Homo sapiens: one gene and its partners. The protein of the gene in region 5 purifies or fractionates together with the protein of the main gene of each other region. This does not show direct contact. Each region holds a gene or a part of one and is shown on either strand. Other genes may lie near its edges. The genes, in order: GRHL2, GTF2E2, DDX46, DSTYK, TCEA1, CHORDC1 and EEA1.

Evidence for each region.
Region 1: the proteins of TCEA1 (region 5) and GRHL2 fractionate together in Homo sapiens (co-fractionation; one large-scale study listed by BioGRID). This does not show direct contact.
Region 2: the proteins of TCEA1 (region 5) and GTF2E2 fractionate together in Homo sapiens (co-fractionation; one large-scale study listed by BioGRID). This does not show direct contact.
Region 3: the proteins of TCEA1 (region 5) and DDX46 purify together in Homo sapiens (affinity purification with mass spectrometry, with the first as the bait; one large-scale study listed by BioGRID). This does not show direct contact.
Region 4: the proteins of TCEA1 (region 5) and DSTYK purify together in Homo sapiens (affinity purification with mass spectrometry; one large-scale study listed by BioGRID and IntAct). This does not show direct contact.
Region 6: the proteins of TCEA1 (region 5) and CHORDC1 fractionate together in Homo sapiens (co-fractionation; one large-scale study listed by BioGRID). This does not show direct contact.
Region 7: the proteins of TCEA1 (region 5) and EEA1 fractionate together in Homo sapiens (co-fractionation; one large-scale study listed by BioGRID). This does not show direct contact.

Annotation. Positions count from the first base shown.
Region 1 is NC_000008.11:101,498,939-101,502,438, reverse strand, and holds part of GRHL2 (grainyhead-like protein 2 homolog), read right to left. Parts: intron 1-3,500. UniProt on the Homo sapiens protein: Transcription factor playing an important role in primary neurulation and in epithelial development. Binds directly to the consensus DNA sequence 5'-AACCGGTT-3' acting as an activator and repressor on distinct target genes.
Region 2 is NC_000008.11:30,613,237-30,616,736, forward strand, and holds part of GTF2E2 (transcription initiation factor IIE subunit beta), read right to left. Parts: intron 1,480-3,500; coding exon 1,372-1,479; intron 1-1,371. UniProt on the Homo sapiens protein: Recruits TFIIH to the initiation complex and stimulates the RNA polymerase II C-terminal domain kinase and DNA-dependent ATPase activities of TFIIH. Both TFIIH and TFIIE are required for promoter clearance by RNA polymerase.
Region 3 is NC_000005.10:134,761,779-134,765,278, reverse strand, and holds part of DDX46 (probable ATP-dependent RNA helicase DDX46), read right to left. Parts: intron 1,376-3,500; coding exon 1,187-1,375; intron 1-1,186. UniProt on the Homo sapiens protein: Component of the 17S U2 SnRNP complex of the spliceosome, a large ribonucleoprotein complex that removes introns from transcribed pre-mRNAs.
Region 4 is NC_000001.11:205,159,703-205,163,202, forward strand, and holds part of DSTYK (dual serine/threonine and tyrosine protein kinase), read right to left. Parts: intron 3,305-3,500; coding exon 3,221-3,304; intron 2,511-3,220; coding exon 2,334-2,510; intron 1,686-2,333; coding exon 1,556-1,685; intron 569-1,555; coding exon 412-568; intron 1-411. UniProt on the Homo sapiens protein: Acts as a positive regulator of ERK phosphorylation downstream of fibroblast growth factor-receptor activation. Involved in the regulation of both caspase-dependent apoptosis and caspase-independent cell death.
Region 5 is NC_000008.11:53,977,449-53,980,948, forward strand, and holds part of TCEA1 (transcription elongation factor A protein 1), read right to left. Parts: intron 1,724-3,500; coding exon 1,577-1,723; intron 1,250-1,576; exon of another isoform or gene 1,075-1,249; intron 1-1,074. Other genes in the region: LYPLA1-TCEA1 readthrough, read right to left, coding at 1,577-1,723.
Region 6 is NC_000011.10:90,209,550-90,213,049, reverse strand, and holds part of CHORDC1 (cysteine and histidine-rich domain-containing protein 1), read left to right. Parts: intron 1-1,731; coding exon 1,732-1,835; intron 1,836-2,455; coding exon 2,456-2,514; intron 2,515-3,500. UniProt on the Homo sapiens protein: Regulates centrosome duplication, probably by inhibiting the kinase activity of ROCK2. Proposed to act as co-chaperone for HSP90. May play a role in the regulation of NOD1 via a HSP90 chaperone complex. In vitro, has intrinsic chaperone activity.
Region 7 is NC_000012.12:92,849,296-92,852,795, reverse strand, and holds part of EEA1 (early endosome antigen 1), read left to right. Parts: intron 1-499; coding exon 500-621; intron 622-1,529; coding exon 1,530-1,685; intron 1,686-3,500. UniProt on the Homo sapiens protein: Binds phospholipid vesicles containing phosphatidylinositol 3-phosphate and participates in endosomal trafficking.

The DNA of each region.
Region 1 (3,500 bases), about 48 Mb from region 5:
TTCCAAAAGTCTGCCATCTGAATCAGACCACCGTTGATTTTGGTGAAGGAGGTGAGGGGGCTTGGGAGCAGAAGCAGGTCCCACTGTGCCTGTAACCTCCTGTCTTGCTAATGTTCATGGCCCCTGCTGTGAGCCACCACCAGCCCAGACCCCTCTGGAGGGAGAAAATGAGACACAGAATATAGGAGCAGGTAATTATTCACGGAGATCATTTAGTTCAATTCCATTTTACAGATGAAAAATAATGAAAGAAGAATCTTCTGATCTTATGTTAATTATCTTATTGGCAATGCAGGAAAGAGGCAAAAGCTACCTTTGTTCCTTGTTTCTTTGAAAAGTTAGATCCAAGAAGTACAGAAGGCAGTTATTTTATGGGACTCACTGAACTGAGAACCAAAAAACAATGATTTGGGGTGAGTGTGGGAAGAAAAGTCAATTTTAACTCCCCAGTAATGGTATCAGAATCTTAACCAGGTATTTCACAGACTCACGTTCATGGTTTAAGAAGTAAACATGCAGTGCTAATCTTGCTCTCAATCTTTCTTAAAAAAAAAAAGCATGTTTTTTCAAACTAATCAAAACTCCAAATTTTCAATTTATACTTAGAATCCCAAAATGAAACACAGAAGAAAAAATGTAAGATTTCTTCTTACATTTCTTCTCAATCCAGGCTTTTAGATCAAAATCCTATACTTGCTCACTCACATGCCCTACGATGCATTTGGATGATCCCTAAGGCTCTTTCTAGCTCTAGGATTCTAGATTGCAAATTAAAACCAAAACCAATTATCTAGGAGGCCAAACAGCCACATGCTGTCGCACCCTAGGCCCCGGCAGCAGCCCCTGCTGGCCGCTCACACTCCACTGAGAAAACACTGGCAACTTAACAGTAGTTAAGCAGTTTCTTCCTGCTCCCTTCTGTCCTCTCCTTTCTCCACTCCTCTCTCCTTCACTTCAGCCTTTCCTTGTCTCCTAAAACCCTGATCTAAATTCATGGGCCTTAAAAAAGAAGGGACTCTGGCTCTCAGGGTTAGTTATATTTGTATATTCAGAGTTCAGATGAAAGGCTGGCGCCAAAATAAAGAGAAGCCACAAGCAATTCTTGCTTTCCGTTTCTGTTCCGGAGGGTATCTGCATTCACACTTGTAAAGGAAGCATTTCCTTGGGAGTGAAAGTGAAGTGCTCCCCACAAAGTTCATTGCCATGTTCATTACAAAGTAAAATAAGGTACTTCATCTACCACAGGCATTGATTGCTTTCCACTGAATGCCCATTCAAATGCATGAACAACCTCCAGAACCCTGACTTATTTTCAAAATATACATTGAAATCTCCTGAAATGCACCAGCTTTTCTAGCACTTCCTATAAGAATTCTTAAAATGTGTTATTTGATTAGTATTGTATGTGGCAAATCAAAAGGTGCTCTTTTTACAAATAATATTACTACTGCTCACCAAAACTCATGAAGCTGAAACACTTCTCTCTTCCCAGTATAATTGGGGATGGGAGGTAGAGATCCCCAAAGGAATGCTTTCTTATTTCTATCCCACTTAACCCATTATAATCCAGTACTTTTTTTTTTTTTTACCATTTCCAGTAAGAAACTTACAGCATAAAACACACTTTCGGTCGGGCGTGGTGGTTCATGCCTGTAATCCTAGCACTTTGGGAGGCCAAGGTGAATGGATCACCTGAGGTCAGGAGTTCGAGACAAGACTGGCCAAAATGGCGAAACTCCGTCTCTACTAAAAATACCAAAAAATTAGCCGGGCATAGTGGCGCACACCTATAGTCCCAGCTACTCAGGAGGCTGAGGTAGGAGAACTGCTTGAACCTAGGAGGCGGAGGTTGCAGTGAGCCGAGATCGTGCCATTGTACTCCAGCCTGGGCAACAAGAGCAAAACTCCAACTCAAAAAAATATATATATACACTTTTGTTATTACCTATTATAATACAGTTTACCATTTACCATTATAAGAAACTTACAACATAAAATGTGCTCTCCTGGTAATGGAAAAATAAACAAAACTGATCTGAAGAGCCTGAATTAATCCAAAGGAAGAAACTATGCAGGCAGGTAGATGGTAGGGTGAATCTGAAATTTGGAGGCCTAAATTTGAAGACCAGTGAAGCTATCTGAGGGACTCCCAGGTACATGTTGTTGTTACTAAGCAACCCACCAGTCCTCCTGGGCCAAAGCAAAAATTCCTATCCAGCCTGTTGCTGCTCATTAAGGAATTTTCCCTGGACAAGTTTGCCAAACCAATCACTACCCTTTATCAGGTTAGGCCTAGTTTTTTTTGTTGTTGTTTTTTGTTTGTTTGTTTTTATTTCTTGTTTGGTTGGTTGGTTGTTTTTTTCTGAGACAGAGTCTCACTCTGGAGTGAGGCTGGAGTGCAGTGGTGCGATCTTGGTTCACTGCAACCTCCACCTCCTGTGTTCAAGCGATTCTCCTGCCTCAGCCTCCTGAGTAGCTGGGAGTACAGGCACGTGCCACCATGCCTGGCTAATTTTTGTGTTATTACTAAAGACGGGGTTTCACCATATTGGCCAGACTGATATCGAACTCCTTACCTCATGATCTGCCTGCCTCGGCTTCCCAAAGTGCTGGGATTACAGGCATGAGCCACCGCGCCTGGCCAGGCCTAGTTTTTATAATTGAACAAGAGTCATTGAAAACCTCTTTAAAAGGAAGAGAGTATCAGTACCCTAGTGAATGCCAGGGATCATGAGTGAGAACTCTAACTTAGGGTAAGGCTTTTCTTATACTAAAAATGACTTCAAATTTTTCCAAGGTTAAACCTAGTTGACATCATCTGCTGCAATGATCTTACCTCTTGGCCCAGGTAACAAGGATGGGCTGCTGATGCTGTAAATACTGAAAGAATGCAGCAAAGTTCACTAACTATAGCAGCACCTAAAATCAGACTCACCGTTATCTCTATGCGCAGAAGCTGTGCAGTTCTCACCAAGTTAATATGGGAGGAAAAAAAAACCAGGAAAGTGACATTAGGGAGACAAACCAAGGAAGGAAAGAAGGGAAGGAGGGAACAAGAAGAAAATGTTAGTTTAAATAAGGGAGGAAGTAAGGAAGGGGAAAAATACTATGTAACCATAGTTAATTTTTTAACCAGAAACGTATGTCTATAGTTAGACCATAAGCCATAAAGAGGAACTGAGGCAGTTGCCTGAATTATCTAAAACTTTTTAAAAAGTAAATTTAACAACCTAACATCCAAAAAATCTGATTTGAATCTTCTGTACATTTGAAACAAACACTTCTTCAGGTGATTGGGTACTGTTAATGTTGTTTAAATGCTTCTGTGTATGTTTGATTTATCCAAGTACTTTTTTTTTTTTTTTTGAGACGGAGTCTTGCTGTCTCCCAGGCTGGAGCGCAGTGGCACAATCTCAGCTCACTGCAAGCTCTGCCTCCCGGGTTCACGCCATTCTCCCACCTCAGCCTCCCAAGTAGCTGGGACTACAGGTGCCCGCCAC
Region 2 (3,500 bases), about 23 Mb from region 5:
TCAATGGTCTTCCCCATCTGCTATCAACTGGCAATGGCAGCTGTGGAAGGAACTGAAAAGGACCAGACTAGTGCATACAAGAACTTTACCTATAATGTCAGCTTGAGAATGAAACTGAGTAGGAATGCAGGAATTACTGAATATAATTATGTTTCTAGTCAGTTCTGTTGTACAGTTAGTATCAGAAGGAAAGCTCTTCAAAAAGAGCAACCCTATATATTTTCTTCTGCAGCTGCCAGCCTGACCCTGAAAGGAGAAAGAGAAGAAACACAGAAAGAAGAAAAAAGGGAGAATAGAATAGTAAAATGATCAAAGTCATTGTTAACTAAATGTTGGTAGTCTATGAATTCTCAAGGTTAGCTAAACCAGCAAATTTAAATGTGGATTACCATTGTTTGTGTATCACTAATACAATGAACTACAATTATACTGATTAATGGTCATGTTACATTATAAAAGTCAAGACCTGTATTTTGCTTGGTAAAAAAATAAATGAATTGTATGTTAGGAATTTTACATTTGGTTTCTAGAATCTATCTCTGGTCCTAGAAAGTAGTCTTCTTAGTTTTCACTTCATATTTTAAAGCGGTAAACATTTGAATTTTTAAATGCTATTCATTTCCAAATTAGCATGGTCACTGACTGCGTTGGGGTTTCTTCAAATGATGTGTGTTCATACACAGCATTCGCGACTTTTTTTCCACATCAAGCCATAATAGCAGTAATTGTGCAACAAAATATCTTCCTATCCCTGCAGTACCTTATGCTTTAAATTTCCTAAAACAAAAACAATTCAATTTACAAGCACACAAACTATAAATCTGGCAATACAAAATAAGCATTAATCTGTAAAAACATTAAGTCGAATTGGTACAATGACTTCTTTACAACTATTACACAAAGTCTTACCTTTAACATTTTGAAACAGATAACATAAAATTATATGAAAACCAACAAATCAATCTTATAAATGTGTACATTCAAAAAACAAAGACCCTACACCATTTCTTTTAAGAAAAAGTAAAAAGCATTATCAGATTTCACCATATTAAAACATTCTAGGCAAGGCGCAGTGGCTCATGCCTATAACCCCAGCACTCTGGGAGGCCGAGGTGGGCGGATCACTTGAGGTCAGGAGTTCAACACCAGCCTGGCCAACATGGTGAAACCCCGTCTCTACTAAAAACACAAAAATTAGCCTGGTATCGTGGCACATGCCTGTAGTCCCAACTACTCGGGAGGCTGAGTCAGCAGTGGGCTGAGATCATGCCACTGCACTCTAGCCTGTGCAACAGAGCAAGACTCTGTCTTAAAAAAAAAAGAAAATTCTAGTTACAGGAAATCTCTCTTGATAATCAACTAAATTCTTACCTCAGTCATTAGCCATTGTTTCTGCTTGAGTCCAATATCTAAATGTTGTGTTTCATCCAAAATTTCATCTAAGGTTAGAGGATGCGTATCTCCTCGCTGATGCCGTGTCTATCAAGTGAAGAAATTGTTATTAGAAGACAGTTTCAAAATGCTAGATGCATTAAATCATAGTTACATGTAAACAAACCTTCAGGAATGAAAAACATGTATTATTCCAGGTAGCATAATTATAGTGACGAAGAGCCATAGACCATGAAATCAGAATGGGGTTGAAACTCATTGCTCTATAAAATCAAAAGACAAACTGACAAAAAAATATATGCAACTCGTATCACCAAGAGCTATATTCTTCCTAACATTTCAAGAGCTTCAAAAAACTAACAAAATAGACCAGGCACAGTGGCTCATGGCTGTAATCCCAGCACTCTGGGGGACTAAGGCAGGTGGGATCACTTCAGGTCAGGTGTTCGAGACCAGCCTGGCCAACATGGTGAAACCCCATGTCTACTAAAAATATAAAAATCAGCCGTGCATGGTGGTGCATGCTTGTAATCCCAGCTACTTGGGAGGCTGAGGCAGGAGAATCGCTTGAACCTGGGAAGAGGAGGCTGCAGTGAGCTGAGATCATGCCACTGCACTCCAGCCTGGGAGGCAAGAGCAAGACTCTGTCTTGAAAAAACACAAAACTAACAGAAAATGACCCAAAGACAGAAACGCGCAGATTGCAAAAAATGACCTTAAACATAGGAAAAGACACTCAACTTTCACCAAACAATCCTATTTCTAGAAACTTATCCTACAGAAATACCAGTACCACACAGAAAAGTGACTTATGGTCACTGTAGCATTGTTCATAAAAGGAAAATATTAGAAATAACCCAAGCGTCCATATTAGAAGACAGATTAACTACAGCACATCCATTCCACTACACAGATGTTCACAAAGTAAATGTAAAAGTTCTCTATGTGCTAATTTGAAAAGATGTCCAAGACAAATTAATAAGTTAAAAAACATATGTATCATGCCTATCCAAAGAAAACACACACACACACGTAGATACCAAAAGCTAGAGAGGATGCAAAGGAACAGGAGCTGTCATTCATTACTGGTGAGTATGCTAAATGGTACAGCTACTGTGGAAGACAGTTCAGCAGTTTCTTACAACACTAAACACACTCTTACCATTTGATCAATCTAGCAATCACGATCCTTGGTATTTACCCAAATGAGCCAAAAAATTATGTACATACAAAAATCCACTAAGGATGCTTATTACAGCTTTATCCATAATTGCCAAAAGCTGGAAGCAACCAAGATGTCCTTCAGTAGGTGAGTGGGTAAATAAACCGTGGTATATCCAGACGATGGAATACTATCCAGTGCTAAAACGAAATGAGCTATCAAGCTATGAAAAAAACATGGAGAAACCTTAAATACATATTACTAAGGGAAAGAAGCCAATCTGAAAAGGATACATACTGTATGGCTCCAACTGTTGACATTCCGGAAAAGGCAAAAACCATGGAGACAATAAAAAGTTTAGTGGCTGCAGGCCAGATGCAGTGGTTCACACCTGTAATCCCAGCACTTTGGGAAAACGAAGCAGGCCACAAGGTAAGGAGATCGAGACCATCCTGGCCAACATGGTGAAATCCCATCTCTACTAAAATACAAAAAATTAGCCAGGCGTGGTAGCGGGTGCCTGTAGTCTCAGCTACTCGGGAGGCTGAGGCAGGGGAATCACTTGAACCTGGGAGGCGGAGGTTGCAGTGAGCCAAGATCAAGCCATTGCATTCCAGCCTGGCAACAGAGCAAGACTCTGTTTTAAAAATAAATAAATAATTTTAAAAATTAAAAATTAAAAAAAGTTTAGTGGCTGCCAAGGGTTGAGGGGAGAGGATGAACAAGCAGAGCCCTGAGAATTTTTAGGGCAGTGAAAATACTCAGGAGGATACTAGAGTGGTGGACATAGGTCATTATACACTTGTCCAAACCCACAGAAAGAACACCACTAAGGGTGAACTCATGTAAACTATGGACTTTGAGTGGTAATTTGTCAACGTAGGTTCATTGACTGTCACAAATGTACTCTTCTGGTGCAGGATGTTGATAGTGGAGGAAGCTGTGG
Region 3 (3,500 bases), on a different chromosome or scaffold from region 5:
CCACCATACCTGGCCAACTTTGTCACTATTAAAAATACAAAAATTATCCAGGCTTTGTGGAGCATGCCTGTAATCCCAGTTACTCAAGAGGCTGAGGCATGAGAATCACTTGAACCCGGGAGGCAGAGGTTCCAGTGAGCCTAGATCGTGCCACTGCACTCCAGCCTGGGTGACAGAGTGAGACTCTGTCTCAAAAAAAAAATAAATTAAAAAAAAAAAAAAGATTAAGGCGCTCTTTAGTTTAAATCTATGACAGCTCATTAAAATAGTTTAAGAGGCTTGGAGAGGGTCTGCTTTGTTTCCTTTTTCTGCCTGCTTTAGAGGCTGCTCTAAACACACTGTTTAGCAAAATGAAGAAAGAAAGAGAAAGAGAGAAAGAGTGAGGGAGGAAGGGAGAGAGAGTGGAAGGGAAGGAGATAGGGAGGAAGGAAGAGAGAGATGGAGGAAGGGAGGGAGGGAAGGAGGGAGAGAGGAAGGAAATTTTACAAATTTCAACAAGGGTGGCAAAAAAAAAAGGAAAGAAAATTAACACCTTGGTCAGCTCTCCTGGAGCAGAATTGGAATAGAACCCTCTTGAATATAACTTATTACTTTACTTTTTACTTCATTTTGTATGTCCCTCAGAGGGCTTCAAGGGATGTCTTTGGGTTACAGGAAATACAGCCTAAAGTTTCCAAACTAAAAACACTGTTTGATGGTCGGACACGGTGGCTCACACATGTAATCCCAGCACTTTGGGAGGCCAAGGTGGGAGGATCACATGAGGCCAGGAGATCGAGAGCAGCCTGGCCAACATGGCAAAACACCGTCTCTTTTAAAGACACAAAAATTAGACAGGTGTGGTGGTGCACATCTGAAATCCCAGCTACTTGGCAGGCTTAGGCATGAGAATCGCTTGAACCCAGGAGGTGGAGGTTGCAGTGAGCAGAGATGATACCACTGCACTCCAGTCTGAGCAACAGAGTGAGGCTCTGTCTCAAAAAAGATTAAAAAAAAAAAAAAACACTGTTTGATAGAGTCTTTGTAGGCACATCCTTCTGGGTCTAATCAAACAAGTAGGGGATAAAGAAAAGGGCCTGCAATTGGGCCACCAAACTCCAGTTGAAAACATACTTTTCAAGAAGCCTGCTATAGCCGAGAAGGCCCAATTTATCACTCGTCTTTTGGAAATTAATTAATGTCTTACCTCAGACGCTTCCTGTCCCTTGACCGAGATCTTCTTTTATCCCTGCTACGAGACCTCTCTCTCCTCCTATCTCTATCTCTACTTCTAGACCGTCTGTCATCTCCACGTTTACTTCTTTTGTCTGAGGGTGAGCGACTTCTAGACCGACTTCCAGAGCGACCCCGGGATGCCGATCGTTTTCGATAGTGGCTAGAACAATAAGTCAAAGATTAAGTTCAGCAAACACCATTAGCTTCTATTACATTTTATTACATTTTTTCTAAAAATAATTTCAGCAGACAAATTTAACACTCAAAGAACTTTTTATGAATTTTTCTAAAATTAGGAGGGAAAAAATGAACCCTTCTGCTTCAGCACAGACACATGTAGAGGTGGAAAATCTGTCTTGAAAGAGAGGCAAGGACAGTGAACAAAACAGACCAAGCTCCTGCCTTTGAGCTCCAGGCAGCTTACACTCCGGTAAAGGAAAAGACGGCAGACAAGTGAAGAAACAAACACTGTATATAGTATGTTTATATACAATATAAATATGACATTTGTTACAGAGGCTTGGAGGAAATAAAGGAGCCATGTAGATATACAGGGAATTTTCCACGCAAAAGGCACAAGTGCAAAGTCCCTAAAGAGGAAGCTTGACTGGTGAGTTTAAGGAACAGCAAGGATGCCAGTTGTGGCTAGTGTTGAAAGAGTGACACAGCGTGCCATAAGACGAGGTCAGAAAAACAGCAGGGAAGCCAAACCTGGAAGGCCTTACTGGCCATTATATAAGGACTCTGTCTTTTACACCAAGATGAAAATCTACTGGAAGACTTTAAGCAGAGGAGTGACACAACCTCATTAATGTTTTTATTTTTATTTTTAGAAACAGGCCTCACTCTATTATCCAGGATAGAGTGCAGTGATGTGCTCACAGTTCACTGCAACTTCAACTCTCTGAGGCTCAAGCAATCCTCCCACTTCAGCCTCCCAAGAAGCCGGAACTTCAGGCATGCGTCACCACACTTAGCTAATTATTATTATTATTTTTTTTTTTTGAGAAAGAGTCTGGCTCTGTTGCCTAGGCTGGAGTGCAGTGGCACAATCTCAGCTCACTGCAAGCTCCACCTCCCGGGTTCACACCATTCTCCTGCCTCAGCCTCCCGAGTAGCTAGGACTATAGGCGTCCGCCATTACGCCAGGCTAAATTTTTTTTGCATTTTTAGAAGAGATGGGGTTTCACCATGTTAGCCAGGATGGTCTCGATCTCCTGACCTCGTGATCCACCTGCCTCAGCCTCCCAAAGTGCTGGGATTACAGGCTTGGGCCACTGCGCCCGGCCACTCAGCTAATTATTTTTATTTTATTTTATTTATTTTTTTTGAGACAGAGTCGCACTCTTGTTGCCCAGGCTGGAATGCAATAGCACCATCTCAGCTCACTGCAACCTCTGCCTCCCAGGTTCAAGCAATCCTCCTACCTCAGCCTCCCAAGCAGCTGGGATTACAGGCCTATACTACCACGCCCAGCCAGTTTCGTATCTTTAGTAGATGAGGCAGTTTCACCACATTGGTCAGGCTGGTCTGGAACTCCTGACCTCAGGTGATCTACCTGCCTCAGCCTCCCAAAGTGCTGGGATGGATTACAGGCATGAGCCACCGCATGCAGCCTTTTTATCATTTTTTTAAATTTCTTTTTTGAGACAAGGTCTCACTCTGTCACCCAGGCTGGAATGCAGCAGCTCAATTGCTACTCACTGTAACCTCAACCTACTGGGCCCCAGCAATCCTTCCACCTCAATCTCCAGAGTAGCTGAGACCAAAGGCACACACCACCGCGCCCACCAATTTTTTTTTTTTTTTTTTTTGGGTAGAGATGGTGTCTCACTATGTTGCTCAGGATTGTCTTAACCTCCCGGCCTCAAGCATCTTCCCACCTCAGCCTCCCAAGTAGCTGGGACCAAAAGCATAAAAGCGTGTGCCACTATGCCCACCTATTTATTTCTTTTTATTTTTCATTTTTGTAGAGATGGAGTCTTGCTATGTTGCTCAGGATGGTCTCAAACTCCTGGGCTCAAGCAATCCTTCCACTTAATGTAATCCCAAAATGCTGGGATTACAGGTGTGAGCCACTGCACCTGGCCTAATGTTTTTAAAGTATTATTCTGGTTGCTGAGAGAACAAACCAAACAAAGGGAGGCAAGGACAAAAGGAGAAAGAATAGGCAGGATTAGCAAAGACCAGCACTATAGCAATCATCCAGGCATGAGATAGTGGTGGCATAGATCAAAATGGAAGGTGGAAAGATTTTGAGAAATATCAAAATCTGGATATCTTGA
Region 4 (3,500 bases), on a different chromosome or scaffold from region 5:
GGCTACAAGGCTTGGGCTCTAATCCTGCATGCCATGCCACAATGTATGAGACAATAATTTCCAGACCATGCTTAGGACAGGTCCAGAGGTAATGGCCCTCAGTGCAGACAGAGCCCTCAGTACAGACAGAGCATGGCCTCTTCAACAAGGATGAAGAATCCTGGATTCTAAAAACTGATAAGGCTTAAGGACTAAAGAAGAAAGTTAAATGGAATGATGAGTCTGAGAAATTAGGATGGTGGGGAAAGAGCAAGCAAAGACAGTAAAGGCCTGAAAGGGAGCACATGTCTGTTAGACACAGAAAACTAAATATAGAGAGGCCATGCTGTAGCTCTTGGTACAAAATCTAAACCAGGGTTCTAGATTCTTCTCTGGATCTTTCTCATAGAGATGAATGAGGCCAGGACCCACCTCATATAGTGAAATTCCAAAGCCAGATCATTCCAGTGCTTCTCATCTGGAGGGACAACTGATTTGAGGGCACAAGGGAAGTGTCCTCCCCAGTTGTCACACAGGTATACCACACCATACTGGCCCCGGCCCAGTTCCTGTCCCAGTTTAGGTTTACCTATAAGGTACAGAGACAGAGATAAGGCAGGAGGAATGGGAACTTCGTGGGCAACCTCTGTAAGATTCTTTTTTTTTTTTTTTGAGACAGAGTCTTGTTCTGTCACCCAAGCAGGAGTGCAGTGGCATGATCTCTGCTCACTGCAACCTCTGCCTCCTGGGTTCAAGCGATTATTCTGCCTCAGGCTCCCAAGTAGTTGGGATTACAGGCATACGCCACCACGCACAGCTAATTTTTACAGTTTTATTAGAGACGGGGTTTTGCCACATTGCCCAGGGTGGTCCCGAACTCCTGGGCTCAAGTGATCCACCCACCGTGGCCTCCCAAAGTACTGGGATTACAGGCATAAGCCACCATGCTGGCCCTGTAACATTCTTCATTGTGAACCTGCCTTTAGGGTCAGGAAGCTGTAATCAAGCCCAGGGATAAAATTCTAGTGTCATTCTAACCCAATAGAAAATAATCTAACTGGTTTAATTCAAATAAACTGTGGTTATGTGGTTTTTTGTTTTTTGTTGTTTTTTTTTTTGGAGACAGAGTCTTGCTCTGTCACCCAGGCTGCAGTGCAGTGGTATGATCTTGGCTCACTGCAACCTCTACTTCCTGGGTTCAAGTGAATCTTCTGCCTGAGCCTCCTGAGGAGCTGGGGTTGCAAAGTGCCACCACGCCCAGCTAATTTTTTTAGTAGAGATGGGGTCTTGCCATATCGCCTAGGCTGGTCTTGAACTTCTGAGCTCAGGCAGTCCACCCACCTCAGCCTCCCAAAGTACTAAGATTACAGGTGTGAGCCACCACACCTGGCCTGGTCATGTTATTTGAACTATATAAATAGCAGGAAGAGACTTTAGGAATTCAAAAACATCAGTAAGGGTTTAGGCAGCTTTGCAAAGAAGCAGCTTTAGACACTAGGATTCTCTGAGGCTGGACATAAGAATGTCAGGTATCCTGAACCATCCTCCAGTTTATCTAGAAGAAAACCAGACTCACGATGAAGCAAGACATCCTGTAAAGAACAGCTTTCCAGAGAAAGGCGGGCCAGGCGGGGAGCATGATCTTTCCGAACCCTCAGCCATAGATCTTCCGTTTTCTCTAACCGGCCTGAGTGGCCAGCTTCCAGCTGGGAGAGAAACAGAAAAAGTACATATGACTTAAGTCCCTAGCTTCAGCTTCCTCACCTGTTATACAGGGATAATAATATCTACTTCATATAGATAATTGTGAGAATTAAACAAGATACATGTAACATGTTTAGCACAGAGACTGGCACAGAGTAGACTCTCAATAAATAATAACTTTTCCTCCTGGATGCATACTCACATCTATCCACTCTCTGCCTGGACACACCCACTCCCCGCCAGTGGACAATCAGATGTCAAACAATTATGAAATATAGAAGTTGGAAAGTCATGTCCTTCTGTCATTTGTTCCTAAAATACTATATAAACATACAAAATTCCTACTCCTATTATCTTTCCTCACTCTGAAATGGGCAGGAATTAACTGAGCTCACTCCATTCTCCCGAGAGTTAGGAAAATATCCACATGAAAAATTTATTGAAAAAACTTCCTATAACAATCTAGAAAGAAAATATACTGATGATTTTAATATACATATGTGTGTGTGTGTATATATATGTGTATATATATGTATACACACACAGACACACACACATATTATATATGAAGAGCGGAGAGCGAAATATTCCCATCTGGATGAGGCTCTTCTCTGCTTGATCCAGCTGTATCTCCTTTCCTACATACCAACCTGCCGCAAGGAGGCTGCAAAAGCCTCGTGGGAACTATTGAGCCGAGTCCGGAATTGGCTGCAAATGCTCTTAGCCAATTTGGAGGCGCTGAGGCTCTCAATGGCTTCCTGGGCCACCTTCCTCTTCCATTCCAGAGTGATGGCAGGTGGGCTCACCCATGTGATGCGCTGGATGATCTACCAGGATGAAGACAGCGAGATCACCAAGGAATGAGAGACAAGAACCACTACAAAGATCCAGTGTCCTTCCTTTTCTGGGTTACCCATTCATTAAGAGCAGGCTCATAAGATGGGAGCCATACGAAGTCCAAAGTTCCTTTCCAATTCCATCTACCACAAAATCAGGTCCTAGCCCAGAGAAAAGCATCAAAGAACACCAGGCCTAGTCTACATGCTCACAAACCCTCAATATATTACATTCAGTGCCAGGGAGTGCCTGATAATCTTTCTGAAGTCAGTAAATAACTCTACATAAGAGCCAGATCAAATTCCAGAACAGAAACCACATTCACAGCCTCTGGCAACAACAAAGCCTAGTTCTGAGAAAAGATTTAGGCTGGGAAAAAGAAATATGAAGAAGCTAGTGTGGTAGAGTCTTATGGCTCCATGAAATATCATTTATCTTTTTTTTCTATTTTTCCATTGTCCACAAAGAGCACCCAACATAAAAATCATTTAAACCCAAAACTTCTGAGAGTTCAAGGGAACAATGTTAATAATTATTTAAGAATAGGCATAAACCAGAATTCTCCCAGGCAGGCAAACCAGAACAAATGGTCACCCTGCCTTAACAGAAGATCCTAGATATCTGTTTCCTACTGGGGTCACTATGATTCATTTGAGCCAACTAGGGGCTTTGAAATCTTTCTCTAAGTAATAATCCCTACCTGTTTGATTTGCTCCCATAGCATCCTTGTAACTGACGACCCTGAGTGAAACGTGACTTCAACATGATAGGCAGCATTTAAGATCTGAAAGAGACAACGCCAAAGAAAACATGTCCTCAGTAGTGTGGCTATTTTAAAAATGCAATAAATGATACTTATTTCAAGAACACAGTCCAGACTCAGGGTTTCCAAACTTACCCCTCAATATATATGCAGAGTCAACTTAAGCTGATTATTTATTTTGTGACTATCTAGCCCCTTCTACCTCATCTTTATATTC
Region 5 (3,500 bases):
ATTTCCTACTCATAAACTTTTGTACTTTTTCAATTTTTAACCACAAAAATAACTACCAACAAAATTTGTTTTAAGTAAAGGCCCCTTTAGAGTTTAGTGATGCTATTTTTTAAGTGCTTAATGTTCTATCGGTGAAAAAATCAATTCCCCAAATCTACTATCTGAAACATAGTAAGTTGTCCCTTAAGGAGACAATCTTGAGTTTACAGCAGATAACATAGCACAAAAACCTATTTGGCAAATGAAATTAAGACAGTGATAAAAAAAATTTTCACATATGCACATGCAACCAAAATAACTATAACACGGTTTTCAGCTGTTAAAGAATAAAAAGGCTAGTCATATCGTACATAAATGTAAGTTATCAATATTACAAAAAGGAACAAATTATCCAGAAGACAGTTAAGCCTAAAGTACTCATAAGCCATGTGGAGGAGCGTGAAGAACTTTCCTTAAATTATATAGTCCTGCAAAATAAAAAGGATTATGGCCAATTTACCTAGTAACCAATACAATTGCTTATGAACTTTTAAAAAAGAACATGGTCATTTTATTAATTCTTATATTTTATAAATTTTGACATAGCTTTCATAGTAACTATTTCTGTGAAAGTATAAATATATCAACTTGGTTTTAGTTAACTAGAATCAGTATTAAGAAAGCATTCTGACAAGGCACAGAGGCTCATGCCTGTATTCCCAGTACTTCGGGAGGCCAAGGTGAGAGGATCATTCGAGTCTGGAAATTTGGGATCAGCCTGGACAATGCAGCAAGACCCCATCTCCGCAAAAAAATAATAATAATTTTTTTTAAAAAAAATCATTCTTACACTTAAGAAAGAAATCTTATCTCCTCTTGAACTAGTCCCCAGTTATCCATGGTTTTGCTTTCCATGGTTTCAGTTATCTATGGTCTGAAAATATTAAATGAAAAATTCCAGAAATAAACAATTCATCAGTTTTAAACTGTACATTGTTCTGAGTAGCATGAAGACAGCCTGTACCATCCTACTCTGTCTCACTTGGAATACAGATCATCCCTTTGTCCAGTGTGTGTCACTGTAATGCTACCTACCCATTAGTCATCCACATCATCAGGGCTCGATGAGGCAGGACCACCTGAAGCAGATGAGCCTCCTTCTGATGGATCATCAGAAGGTCAACAGCAGCCTAACACTTAGTCACAATGCCTACATCATTCACTTCGCCTCATCTCATCAAATGAACAGGGGTGAGTACAGTGCAAGACACTGTGAGAGACAGAAAGACTACACTCATATTACTTTCATAACAGTATCTTGTTATAATTATTCTATTTGATTAAGTTATTATTGTTAATCTCTTCCTATGCCTAATTTATAAATAAAACTTATCAGTACATATGTATCGGAAAAAACGTGGTATACATAGGGTTAGGTACTATCCGTGGTTTCAGGCATCCACTCAGGGTCTTAGAACATATCCCTCCATGGATAAGTGAGGGACTATCATACTGGTAATTATCTTTGCTATTTATTTTAAAACAGGAGTTGCAAGCATTTTTATATAAAAATAAGAATCTATAAACAATCACAAACCTGTGTGTAAGTGCAATTCTTCTTTTTACATTTGCCACATGTGAACAAGTCAGTCTGGGTCCCACCAGTCTTGGCCATCTGATGCTCTCTGATGGCTTCTTTGGTCAAGTTTTTCCGCATCTCTTTCAGCTCATCACTAGCCATTTCCTATGAGGTAGGGGGCAATACCACTCAGTTATAGACACCTTCTATATATATCCTGAATGCTTTTATGCTCAATTAGCCTAATAATAATAAAACCACATATCAACCTTTAAGGTTTTAAAAGCATTAAATTAATATTTTTCCTCAAAGGCTTTGTAAGAGTTTAATTCCTTTTAAAAATTTCTTCAAATACTTAAAAGTTTACATGTGAAAATTGGATTTAAGTACTGTTTAAAGGCTACTAAAACCACCTTTGCAAAGATTATGACAGTGAGAGAAATTGAACATGGCTGACTCCATCTTGCTTCTAGTGTCACAGGCTGGCTGTCTTCCCTCTTTCCTGGGCACAGGCCAAGTTAACCATGGAAGGAATTTAGTTTAACTTTGATGCAAAGATGGTAACAGTCCTTCCCTAAAATCGATCCCTCCTTGTTCAGAGCCTGAGATCACCTTTGTTAAGACTAATGAAATGCCAGAGGATTAGGATTATGGGACAGGCCTGAACTCTGCTAAAATGTAGACATAGTTTCTATAATCCCTCACTGCTCAGGAGTCATGTGGCCAGAGGACACAAAGTGTGTGACTTCCCCAATTGCTCCTATAGGTAACATTATTATTGTAGAACCTGAGATTGGTTTTTTGAGATGTTTTTCAGACTGACCCCTCCAGAACTCAGGCCCCTCACCCAGAGGTACAGAAGGACCAGTTCCCACATCCCTATGATTGCATCCCCAATCAATCAGCAGCACCCATTCCCTAGTCACCTAGGAATAGTTACCACCAAACTATTCTTGTAAAACCCTAACCTCCAAGTCTTCAGGGAGACTAATGTGAGTAATAACTTCGTCTCCTGCATGGCCAGCCTTGCATTAATAAAACTCTTTCTTAACCGCAATAGCGCAGTCTCAGTGAATTGGTTTTGTCTGTGTAGTGGGCGGGAAGAAGCTGTCAGGTGATTACACTATGAACAATGTAAACTTACAACGAGTACCTCTAGTATCCAGATTATAGTTTCTAATAGCATTGCCTACACCCCACTCCCAAAAGAAGTCAGGGATCTCTGGAGGAATGCCTGATTCCAGTTTTGAGGCAAGAAATGTATAGAATATGCCAGGGTCATCTTCTCACGCCAGTTTTTACCAGCTACAGTCATACTTTGCTTTATCTTGCTCTGCGCTATTGTGCTTCATTTTATTGCACTTTGCAGTTACTGCATTTTTTACAAATTGAAGGTCTGCAGCAATGCTGTGTTGAGCAAATCTATTGGCGCTATTTTTCCAAAAGCATGTGCTCATTTCATGTCTCTGTGTCACATCTTGGTAATTCTCACAATATTCCAAGCATTTTCACTATTATTATATCTGTTAGGTAATCTGTGATCAGTAATTTCTTATGTTACTATCACTGTTTTAGGGGCACCACTAACTTTGACCACATAGGACAGTAAGCTTGACAAATGCTGTGTGTGTTCCGACTGCTCCACTCTTTCCCCGTCTCTCTTCCTCTCCTTGGGCCTCCCTACTCCCTGAGACACAACAATATTGAAATCAGGCCAATTAATAACCCTACAATGGCCTCTAAGTATTCAAGGACAAGGAAGAGTCAACATGTCTCACTTTAAATCAAAACCTAGAAATAAGACTAAGTTTAGTGAGGAAGGCATATGGAAAGCTGGGATAAGCCAAAAGCTAGGTCTCTTACACCAGTTAGCCAAATTGTGAATGCAAAGGAAAATTTCTTGATGGAAATTAAAAGTGCTACTCCAGTGAACACATGAATA
Region 6 (3,500 bases), on a different chromosome or scaffold from region 5:
AAAGACAAAACTTCAGTCATGGCTCATTCTTAATCTCTTTAGTAATATAATACAGTCTGTACTATAATAGTATGAGTTAATTTTTTCTTTAAATGATGGGCTGTTATTTTACTTAAAGGGCAGTGAGAGGCCAGGCACTGTGGCTCAAGCCCATAATCCAGCACTTTGAGAAGCCTAGGAGGGAGGATCCTTTGAGCCTAGGAGTTTGAGAACCAATCTGAAAGAGATCCTGTCTCTCCAAAAAAAATAAATTAGCTGGGTTTGGTGGTGTGCTCATGTAGTTGCAGCTACTCAGGCTGAGGCAGGAGGATCTTGAGATTGACTTTTTGAAAAAAAAGGACAAAGGCAGTGAGATGAGAAAAACTAAATATTTTATCCTAAATTCATTTGGTGGTATTATAACAATTATGAGGATATCAGTTTTTACATACTTTTCTTTTTTTTAAGAAGAAAAGTCCCTCTCTTACCCAGGCTGTAATGCAGTGGCATTATAGCTCACTGCAGCCTTTAACTCCTGGGCTCAAGCCATCCTCCTCCCTAACCCTCCCCGGAACTATAGGTGTATGCTACTATGACTGTATTAGTCCATTTTCACAGTTACGAAGAAACACCCGAGACTAAGTGATTTATAAAGAAAAAGAGGTTTAATGAACTCACAGTTCCATATGGCTGGGGAGGCCTCACAATCATGGCAGAAGGTAGAGCGAGTAATAAAGGAATGTTTTACATGGTGGCAGGCAAGAAAAAAACCATCAGAACTTCTGAGACTTATTCACTATCATGAGAACAGCATGGGAAAAAGGCATCCCCATGATCCAGTTACCTCCCACTAGGTCTGTCACACACCATGTGGAGATTAGGGGAGCTAGAATTCAAGATGAGATTTGGTTGGTGACACAGGGAAACCATATCAGTGACCGACTAATATTTTTTATTATTTTGCGGAGACAGGGTTCCACTTTGTTGCCCAGGCTTCAAGCAGTCCTCTTGCCTCAGCCTCCCAAAGTGTTGGGATTATGGGCATAAGCGACCATGCCTTGCCTATGTACTTTTAAAATGCCTCTTTTGTCAGTTTTTTCATCGAGGATATAGAATGAATAGCCTACGATTTTTATTTTTATTGCTGTGTTTATTAATATGTTTAATACTTATTTATTGAGTGGACTTAAATTATGTATACAACACTTAGCCATTATGAAATGTTAGAAGATGTTGTTTTTTAAACCCTACTGAAATTGCCTTGCAATACGATCGTATCTGAATTTACAGATCCATATGCCAGTGTCCACATAAATTATCTCCACTGGTAGAAGTGAGTATGGATTCACTTAGAACTTACTTATATTTCATGTTTATTATGTGCTCAGCATTGAGCTTGGGCATGGGATGTAAAAGTACATTATGGTCCCTTCCTCAGCATTACTCATCTTGAAAACCTTGGATTCCTAGTCTTTATTCCTTTCTCGTTAGTGCAACTGATTAATACTTAAATATGCTGACAATAGCGTGATTATTTGAGACTTACTATTCTAATATAAGGAGCTTTTCTGTTAAGACAGAATGTAGATACATTGTAACAATTATTTATAAAATACCTTTTAACCTTTTAATGGGAATCATTTGATACACAAAGCATTTGGCTTCTCAGAAAGCTTTTAAGGTTATTAATTTGGAGTACAAAGAAATATTTTGGTATATTAATAATGGTAATAAGGTTTCAAAATTCTCCAGCCCAGATGAACCAATGACAAATTTGGAATTAAAAATATCTGCCTCCCTAAAACAAGCACTTGATAAACTTAAACTGTCATCAGGGAATGAAGAAAATAAGAAAGGTAAGATTTTATTTTGTTTTATTGTTAATTATTTTCTGGTACAGTTAAGCAGTTATCCAAAAGAGAGAATAGTAGTTTACTGCATATAAATAGGGAAAAGTCGCACATTGTAGTTAAGAAACTTTTTCTTCTAAATGTCAGATATGATAAACTACAAATACTTCAGAACCTAATAGGTTAATTCCATATGTCTTTATTCAAAACGAGAACCTATATTAAATTTTTTTTCTTTTATGGTTCATTATTTTTTTAAGAATCAGCTAAATTTCTTTGATATTTTAAAATGTTTTCTTGTACATTATACAAAATATATTCACTATTCTCTGACTTTATACCTGGTACCATGGGAGGAAAACACCCTTTCATGATTTATTTTACAAAGTTAAGATACTGGATATAACATTTTGTTATGGAAAAAATTGTGTCCTGCATTGTTGAAGACACCAGGTCCTCAAAAGAAGAAGAAATGTGTCATATATCAATTTGGGGATATAAGCAAATCCTAGTCACAGTCGTTTTCTAAAAAGTATTGTTTTCTGGAAAAACCTAGTTTTTAAGAATGATGCCACAGCGAAGTTCTATTTTAACTTTTTAATTTGATTTTTTTTTCTTTGTTACAGAAGAAGACAATGATGAAATTAAGATTGGGACCTCATGTAAGAATGGAGGGTGTTCAAAGGTATATATCACAAGATTTGTGATGTGTTATGAAGTAAAATTTTAATTTTGAGGAAAGTGCAGTTTGCTGACTCAATTCAACAAACATTTGCATGCATATTATATATTGAACATTATGCTGGGGACTAGGGCTACAATCATGGATAAGAGACTCTGAGTAGCATCATGTCCAGTAGAATAATGAAAATAAGTAATTCCAATTCACTTAACATTTACTGAGCACTTATTATGTGCCAGACATTTTATGGGCTGGAGACATAGTATCAAATAAAGCAAACATTTCTTTTCTTATGGAGCTGATATTCTAGAATGGGGAGAAGAGCAACAAATAGGTAGTTAGATATTACAAAATCAGGATGATAGGAAGAAAATAAAACATACTAAGGAGTGCTTATCAGCAAAGCCCTTCTTGACATAGTAACACTAAATCAGAAATCTTCATGTTGCACTGGATGGATTATGTAAACCTGGGTGAAGAGTGTTCTGGATGCAGTAACATGAGCAGAGGCTTTAGAACTTGGCTATTCAAGGAATAACAAGGTCTGTGGAGCTTGGGCAAGGGTAGCAGGTAAGACAGGTAGACAGAATTATGGTGGTTCTTTTAAGCCATGATGAGGTATTTGGGCTTTATTCTAAGTATTAGGAGAAGCTATTACTTGCTTTAGGGAAGGGTTTTAGAAAGATTCTGTGACTGGTGAATGGTAAATACATGGTGATGCAGCAGGAGTGGAATTGGAAGAAGAGAAACCAGCTAGGATGCTATTGTGGAAGACCAGACAGTGGGATTGGAGAGTAGTTTGTTGAGAAGTGATTAAATGTGGGATGCGGTCAAACATACCAGTAAGCCATTTTCCTGCCTCTTGCTACTTGATATAAAACTTGCATATCCTCCAACATTTCTTCTCCCTCTCCTTTTTTCTCCATCGCTCTTAATCACTTTATATTACTTATTTTGTATACTTATTTTACTTCTGAGCTATACCATCT
Region 7 (3,500 bases), on a different chromosome or scaffold from region 5:
AATGGTGATTAATGGAATTTAATGATTTCAGAGTTGCTATGTAAATTATTTTGTTTGTCCTCTAGCTGCCTGCCTTCAAAGGACTGGTGTTTCTTTGTAGATTCTTCTTGAAATTTAGAGAAGATACATTTTCTTCTGTGGCATGCTTAAAGATTAAAAAGGAACATTTTAAAGAAGTGAAGTAAATAATGTAGTATAAATGTAACACTTGGTTATACTATTACATATATATGTTTTTAACATGTGCTTTTAGGTAAAATATGTGATTAAGTACATTAAAATGCTAATTATTAACTTAATGTTGAGTGGAATTTATGTAGACAGTTAATTTTAAGTTCATTTCATGTAATTAGAAGTATAAATTTACTGTATATATTTATGGTTATCTAAGGAATGTGAATTTGAATTAGAGTGATATACAGATATGCAGAGTAATATATGGAAACTTATAAAACTGTCCTCCCCTTAAACTAATATTTATATAACTATCTTTAATTAGATATAAAGTCAAAGTATGATGAAGAAAGGAGTCTTCGAGAAGCTGCTGAACAAAAAGTGACACGTCTGACAGAAGAATTAAACAAAGAGGCAACTGTAATTCAAGATCTGAAGACGGAACTGGTAATTTAGGAATTATTTATTGAGATGTACTCTTATACCTTTCTAAATTAAAAATAAAATACATACCCTGAAGGAAAATGTTTAAAAATATAATTTGAGTGAAATCAGGAAATAAGCAATTCCCTATATTCTACCACCTGCATATATATTCTGTATATGATTTTTAAAATAAAAATGGAATGTTATGATACGTAACTTACTACCTTAACATTTTTGTTGTTTCTATCTAAATATCATCTGTCATTTTAGTAGTTTTCATATCTGCATCTCTGATCCTGGTCTTCTCTTGCATGTTTGTTTTATAAATCCATCTGCTTTTAGGGTACTTTGTGTTGAATTTCTAGCTTTAATTTCAAATTCAACAAGTATAAAATCAAAGTAATCATGTTTCCTCATTACTGTATTTCTGTTATTGGAACCATACATCTCTAATACTCTCCCAAGACTTAATAATCTTGGATCTGTCCTTGACTTTCTTTCCTTTATTTAGCTCTCAATAAATATATAAATTAACTACATCCAACCTGGAGCAAACTCTATGCTTTCATTTGCTCCTTCATTTTTATTACCAGTTTTGTAGGATAGAAAAAGAAGGAATGTAGCATTTTCAAGTCACTGTTATGACCAATAGATGTAGTTTGTGAAGGGAAGGAAAACAAATAAAGTAGTAAAGATAATTGTGAATTTACTATACAGCACCTTGAGTATTAATACTATTAAATATGAGGTAGGATGGGAAGAGGAAGTGGCTTATTGTGGGAGAAGATATCAGTGTTCAATGTTTGAAGTCTAAAAATTGATATTGATGATTGTTTCCCTTTTGATTCCTTTGTAGTGAAATGATTCTAAAAATGTGTATTATTTTAGTTTTTCACTTTAATTTTTAATTAAAATGTGTTGTTTCACAGCTTCAGAGACCTGGTATAGAAGATGTTGCCGTGCTAAAGAAAGAACTGGTCCAAGTTCAAACACTAATGGATAACATGACCTTGGAACGTGAGCGAGAATCTGAAAAACTCAAAGATGAATGCAAAAAATTGCAGTCACAATATGCTAGCTCAGAGGTAATGAAGTTCATTGTACTTAAATGTGATTCATATTAGCTTGTGTAGTGTATACTATTGAGTGAAGCCAGGATTTGAGATTTTTCTGAGTGGCCTATCAAAATATTTGTCTTTCTTTCATTTTTGATCTGAATAATATTTGTTTATAGTCAATGTGGTCTCTCAGTATGTTTTGCTTTATAAAGCTAGACACTCAGGAATATTTGCATAAAGATTATTATTCTGTTTAATATATATATTGTTGACATGATATTTAAGGTTAAATTTACTCAAGGTTGGTTGATAAATGGTAATTGACTTTAAAGGAAGAATGATAGCATTTTCTACAATTATATTACCAATTTTGTTTAGAAAATATATTTAAGAAAGGCTTATTTTGTAATAAGCTTATTTCTTTTTTTTTTTTTTTTTTTTTTTTTTTGAGACAAAGTCTTGCTCTGTCACCCAGGCTGGAGTGCAGTGGCGTGATCTCAGCTCACTGCAACATCCACCTCCCGGGTTCAAGTGATTCTTCTGCCTCAGCCTCCCAAGTAGCTGGGATTACAGGTGCCTGCCACCACGCTTGGCTAATTTTTGTATTTTTAGTAGAGATGGGGCTTCACCATGTTGGCCAGGCTGGTCTCGAACTCCTGACCTCAGACGGTCTGCCTGTCTTGGCTTCCCAAAGTGTTGGGATTACAGGCGTGAGCCACTGCACCCGGCCATAAGCTTATTTCTAATTGATGGACTTTGAATTATGAATTTGAAAGAAGTCTTGAACTAGTCTAAATTCAGTCCAGAACTTCCCTTTATGCCAACCCTGCTAAGTGATCCACAATCCTTGCTAGGTGGTGTACGGTGTGCATATTTCTTCCTAAGTCTATTTTATTGAGCTGACATTTGTTTCCCTGTAATTTACATGCGCTGGTTCTGGTTCTGTCCTTAGGAATTACACAGAATAAATTGTTCCTCTTTCCACATGAGGTATTTGAAGACTGCTCATATTTATTCGGAGTATTTCTCTTCCAAGATAAACATTTTCAGTTCTTCTACTATTTCTTACATGACATGACTTTGGCCTGTAAATCCCTTGTATAATATGTCAGCATTTAATAAACTCTAAGATGTATAATACATAAATGTGCTTAAAAATCCTAGCCTTTGTCCTTTTTACTTTATTATAGGAGACATTTTGTTATGACTACTGTTATTTGTAGTCTTTAAGCTCCCTTATGTAAAGTAGACCTCTGATTTTCATATTTTCAGTTTAAAAAGTTGTTACCGTAACATTTTAATTTGAATCTCTTCCTTAGAGTTTTGTAACTGGTGATCTAAAAGCCACTCTATTCACAAATATAACATGTCATCAAGCTTTGGGGTATAAGTATTATAGATAACCCATGTCTAATTCATTTTTAAAAATCTTTCTTTATCTTATGGGAAGAGATGGTGAAAGTTTGTGGATATAACACACATAGGCATGTAAGGCCTTATGATGCCTAACACTACACTCTCTAACTTATGATATTTGGATGCAGTTTTTCCAAAATTGACACTTTGTAGCCCAATAACACTTAATTCCAAAAATTTTCAAACAATTTCAGGTGGTTCATGAACTTACTGAAGCCAGTTAAAAGCTCTTGTCCTACTGGTATTATTAATCAGCAGAAGACAATGATAAATCTATAAGTACAAATGTGAAATCAAGGAGAGGCTGAATCAAAGAAGTCTCATGAGGAAAAGTGCTATTCAGATGTTAATGTCAAAATACCTAAACCAGGGTGAACCCAGTCATTTATTTCTTTGTATCAGTAAGAACTATTTTTGTTTAGATAT